2 separate regions of the Homo sapiens genome follow, and region 1 is linked to region 2. The links come from fine-mapping of genetic effects on gene expression. A gene starts in region 2. The other region holds a variant in brackets. All regions are shown on one strand. Distances are between the middles of the regions.

What was found. PIP is the estimated chance that this variant, and not a neighbour inherited with it, causes the effect.
Region 1: its variant is fine-mapped to the expression of CPE in macrophages after interferon gamma (Alasoo 2018, PIP 0.95).

The regions. Positions count from the first base shown.
Region 1 is chr4:165,309,085-165,311,996 of GRCh38, reverse strand. It overlaps KLHL2 (kelch like family member 2), which reads right to left. Exons shown (of 15, transcript NM_007246.4): 10 at 1,247-1,444; 11 at 432-533. Among named protein-coding and RNA genes, the nearest start is that of MSMO1, 17 kb to the left of the region's middle. The variant T/C (reference allele first, on the strand shown) is at 1,621.
Region 2 is chr4:165,377,468-165,380,379 of GRCh38, reverse strand. It overlaps CPE (carboxypeptidase E), which reads right to left and starts at 1,372. Exons shown (of 9, transcript NM_001873.4): 1 at 852-1,372. The coding sequence starts at 1,158. RefSeq lists a silencer at 1,080-1,339.

The sequences.
Region 1 (2,912 bases), 68 kb after region 2:
CCAAAACCATCCCCCCAACCCACCCCTGTCCATGGAAAAATTGTCTTCCACAAAACCAGTCCCTAGTGCCAAAAAGGTTGGGGACTGCTGTTATATAAGTCAAACACACACGTGTTATATAAGTCAAACACACACAGTTATATAAGTCAAACACACACACACACACACACACACACACACACACACAGAGAGAAAGGAGGAGGGATAAAGGGAGGGGGATAGAGAGGGAGAGAAAAGGCTTTATATAGGTTGATTTATATAGAGAAGCTAATTTTAAAAAGAGGATAACTGAAATTTTACAGTAATTACGACTTTTCTTTTTAAAATGATAATTAGCTTGCCCATTCAGAAAACTAAAGTTGAGATTACTGGAAGAACCACTCTCAAGGATCAAAATGCCACATGTACCTGAAAGAACTGTCAACACCTACCTCCAACAACACCCACACCAACACTGCTCCTCCTTGTATTCATGGGAGCTACATGAAACCACTCATTAGACTTTATGTTGTATGCTTCCACAGATGACAAACCTATAATAAAGCACAATAGTCTTCATTTCCTTCTCTAAAAAATGTCAATAGTTCATATATATGGAAAAATACTTCAGGTATGTTATACTGGGCTAAAATTAAGAGAAGAAAATGGTGGAACATAAACACAGCAATTACATGAAAAACAGGTACAGCTTGTTTTCCAGAAGGCTCCTACCTAAGCTACTGATATTTATAAGCTTTTAAAATTTGATGACTGATACTGATGCATAAGAAAGAAAATTTATATACTCACCACTCATATCATTTAAGGAAATTCTTGATAAAATTTTAAACTTATCTTTAAATACCAGTTAAAACCTCACATGTTGTAATCCCAGCACTTTGGGAGGCCGAGGTGGGCGGATCACAAAGTCAGGAGATTGAGACCATCCTGGCTAACATGGTGAAACCCCGTCTCTACTAAAAAATACAAAAAAAATTAGCCGGGCGTGGTGGCGGGCACCTATAGTCCCAGCTGCTCGGGAGGCTGAGGCAGGAGAATGGCATGAACCCGGCAGGCGGAGCTTGCAGTGAGCCGAGATTGCGCCACTGTACTCCAGCCTGGGCGACGGAGCAAGACTCCATCTCAAAAAAAAAAAAAAAAACACAAAAAACCTCACATGTGCCCTAATGTTGCCACAATTTATTCCATAAACATGACTACTACGTTAATTTTAGCAGCAATGTAGAATAAATGAAAAGGAAATTACCTGTACTCCCATCAAAGCCTCCCACAGCGTATAATAATCCATTTAACACAGCAGCTCCCAAAGTGCTTCTCCGGTCTCTCATGTTAGCAACGCTGGTCCACTGGTCCTTCACAGGGTCGTAGGAATCTACAGTGCGAACTCTTAATGAGCCATTAAAGCCACCAACAGCAAAAACAAGTCCAGCCATGTAGACCATGCCTGCAAAAGGAGTACAGCATTTAATGATCAACATGCAACTCAACTACCACCAATATCCAAAGATTGCTTTCTGATAAATCTATAGCTGTTGTCAGAACATGCTACTCTTAGGAGGAGCCTGATTAAATAAATCCTTGAAAATGCTATTCATTTGCAAGAACATCCAATCACTAAAT[T/C]GTCTTTCTTTCTAAGGTTATTATTATTATTATTTCTTCCTTTCTTTATTTTGAGACGGAGTCTCACTCTGTCGCCCAGGCTGGAGTGCAGTGGCGCCATCTCAGCTCACTGCAAGCTCAGCCTCCCGTGTTCACACCATTCTCCTGCCTCAGCCTCCTGAGTAGCTGGGACTACAGGCGCCCGCCACCACACCCAACTAATTTTTTGTATTTTTAGTAGAGATGGGGTTTCACTGTGGTCTTGATCTCCTGACCTCGTGATCTGCCCGCCTTGGCCTCCCAAACTGCTGGGATTACAAGCGTGAGCCACTGCACCTGGCCTTCTTTCTAAGGTTATTAAAAAATGCAATGGCATGGGCTAAAGTACCATGTTGACTCTTGGTTTTTTTAAATATCAATTTACAAGCTTAAATAATGAGCCATTATTTTCCAACTACTTGAACCTGTACTCACCTCCCATAGCTTTCAATTTTGGATCTTCTAGTGGATATTCTTAGAATGAAACTCCATACGCTTATAATTTATTTGCATAACGTATTCCTAGTTTATCATGTTAGTGGGCTAAATCAGGGGTCGGCAAATTTACAGCTACAGGCTAAATTTGGTCCAGCGAACTATTTCTGTAGAACCCATAAGCTAAGCATGGTTTTTATATTTTTAAATGGCTGAAAAACAACCAAAAGAGGAATAATATTTCATGACATGTAAAAAGCTATATGAAATTCAAATTTCACCATCCATAAATATAGTTTTATTGGAACACTGCCACACTCATTCATTTACATATGGCTGGTTTTGCACTATAGCAGTAGATAAGAAGCTGTGACAGAGACCATATAACCACAAAGCCTAAAATACTTATTCTCTGGTCCTTCAAGAGAAAGTCTGCTGATCCTTGGGCTAAAGAGATATTACGGAATCAGTGAATGGAGAAACTAGACTGCTAGACTCAGGTTTCAACCATCTTTTCACTTTTCTCAACTTTTTTCATGCTGCTGTCCTAATCGGACAGGCTCCTATCACCATCTACTCTGTTCTCTTTAACTCTGAATCCTCAGTTAAAGTTCCACATTCTCTATGATGCCTTCCCTGTCCACTTTAGCCTAAAAGGGATTATGTCCAGCTCCCGAACCCTATAGCAAATAACATCTATGTTGTGTACTTCAGGTTTAATAAATGTACCGTCTATAATATAATTACTTTAAATTGTTCAAATTTTTATTGTTCTTAGTTCTATAATGTTTATGTCCCTGTGCCAGCCTGAGGGCAGGCAATGTGGCTCACAGTTCTCT
Region 2 (2,912 bases):
GGAAAGACGAATACAGATGGTTATTTGGGAACATCAGTTGGAATAAAGACCCCATCACAAACTATTCATCTCAAATGGTTATAGCAGAGAAAATGGAATACTCCTTTTTCCTTGGAAAGGCCTTGTGCAGTTTCAAAATCTGGTTTCAAAAGTCAGAAACCACTTTTCACCCTGGTAGGAGGAGGGGCACCAACGTATCTTTATACACCACCACCCCAGATTGGCAATATCCCTAAGATTCCCCAAGCATCCACAGCAGCGAGTGTACCTAATACGTATACACACACAGGTAGAGATGGGTACACAGAGCCAATAAACTGGTCCTCTGGAAATTAGAGAAAACATGATAAATGACTCTTTCTCCCTCGTTCTCCTTTCCTCTCAATCACTGCCTTCTGCACCTTATCTTTCTACTCTTGTCAGCAAGGAAGACCAACCCCCCTTGCGGGGGACTCGCAATCATTCCTTTGGGTTTTTCACACAGCAAAGTGAGAGCGACCGCTGGGGTTGCGTGCGTCAGGATTTGTTTTTTCTGTATTGCTATCCCCCCCATCCCCCGCCACCCCAGCCTCCCAAGCCTATACTTACTAGAGGGTGGCCTAAGGTCTGGGGAGATGGGATTGGTGCTGGGGGGATGGGACGGGAAAGCAGAAATTGGGCCACTGGCGCTCTAAGTCGGGTTCTTCCCCATTTCCATCCCTCCCTCCACTTCCCACCTTCCACCTTAGATACCTTTTACCAAGAGGCACCCCTGGGCCCATCCCTCCCTCCTTCCCCCACCGCCACCAGTCCCACCCTCTGCCGCCCCCCTCCGGGATGCCCCCAGGGCTGTCAGGGGGCAGCGCCCTTACCAGGCTCATGGACGCCAGGGTTGTCGGACAGCTCGATGACCAGGAGCTCCCGGCCCTCGAAGCTGCGCCCCACCGTGTAAATCCTGCTGATGGCGGTGCACTGCAGCCACACGGACACGAGCGCCTCGCGCAGCTCGGGGTAGCGGTGGTACTCGAAGGAGATGCCGTCCTCTTGCTGCAGCCGCCGGCGCCGCCTCATGCCCGCCGCGGGCGCCCCGGGCTCCTGGGCTTCGGCGCCCAGGAGCCACCCGCAGGCAGCCAGTGCCCCGCACAGAGCCAGCAGCGCGCTGCCCCCTCGCCCGGCCATCGCTGCGCTCCGCCGCCGCCGGCCGTGCCTTCCTACGCGGGCGGCCTCTTTTGTCTGCCCGGCCCTGGGCTTAGCCCGCCGGCGCTGCTGGGGGCGGCAAGTTCCGCACCAGCCTCTACTCGCCTCACCTTCCCCGGCTGAATGAGTGTCAGCCCGCGCACTGGGGCCACCCAGAGGAGACGGGCAAAGCCGCGGCTCCACGGGCTGCACTACTGGCCGCGGAGCCCAGGGGAGCTGCAGGAGAAACCACTGCGAGGAGGGGGCCGGCGGAGAGACGGGCCGGCGTGGATCTGGGAGGGCTGCTGGCGTTATTTGCTGGCTCGGAACCACGTCAACAGCCAAATGGCGTCCGGGACGACGCAGGTGAAATGACAGCTAAGGTCCGGGGTTCGGGAACGTTACTGTCATTGAGACACCCATGACCCACCCACGTCACTGCGTATGGAAAAAATATTCTTGTATTGTTAGTGGAGCCTTTTAAAGGGACATCTATTCCAAGCCTACCAGTTTCCATCTTGATCCACCAAGAATTAGAGAATATTCCAGAAAAAAGGAAGTACTGGCAGCCACTTGCCATCTCCTGATGCGTCTTTCATAATTGTATCAAGAGTCAAAACACAAACCCAAGGGTTGGGTTTTCATTTATTAGAAGGTCTTGCTGGAAATCAGAACATTAAGTGCTTTGATTTAGAGGTTTAAGAGAATAGAAATGCTTTCTTCCAATTTGTAGATACTGTCCTTAATTGTATTTATGCACATTCCTAGATTCTTCCAGAAAACAAACAGACAAAATAAATAAGGCAATGTCATATGGCTGTGCCTGCACCAGCCCTCCTCTTTAATACTATGGGGAAAATAAGTACAACTCTGCTGATGCTTTAGACAAAGGATTTAGTTTGGCATTAAGATTAAATCCTGTTAAGAAAACTCTGATGATGACATGACACCTCCGTTCCTTTTGCAAAGCTATTGTAAAAATAAAAAATCATTTACAGCTTTAAATATCCACCCCTTAGTCGGGATTTATATTCCTGGAGCAATGTCTGGAGCAGATGTTACTCTAAAGAGGCTGCTGTTTGGATTCAGGGACAGCACAAATCTAAATTAATAAATAATCCATTGGGTATTGCAACCGAGCAGGAAAAGTGGACACCATGCGGGTAATTTTCCATGTTAAGCTTCTTTGTTTTTCTAAACTTGTTCATTCTTCACCTGTTTAACAATGCATTGCACATAATAAAAACTTTTACGTGGAAAAGGAGTTAGATATTTAAGTCATCTTATTGGATCAATAAATAAAAGCACAGACATGGTTGGTAAGGTGCTGCTGGAGGGGCTGGCTTTAAACACCCCTATGTACATATACTACAGCAGCATGGATCTTCTTTTTTTTTTTTTTTTTTTTTTTGCGTTTTCGGGGAGAAACTGTCACTGTAAACACATGGCACTCAAGTTGAATTGATGTGGATCCAGCCATTTTTTTTTTTGTCAATGTAGGCAGAGCTAAAAATTGTATATTTTCCACTATGACCAGTCTGTGCTTGATTACATGGTCCAGAAGTTTGAAATCAAACTTATAATTATATTTCTAAAACCATGCCCAAAACAGCAACCTTGGAAGCCTAGAAAAAAAAATTGAGTAGCTAAAACCAAATAACTTCAGAAGTAGGAGGTTAAGATTTTCATGTTAGCAATTTAGAGTAACCACACTAATTTGTGGCTAGGTGGGGCATACTGACTAGTAACTACACACA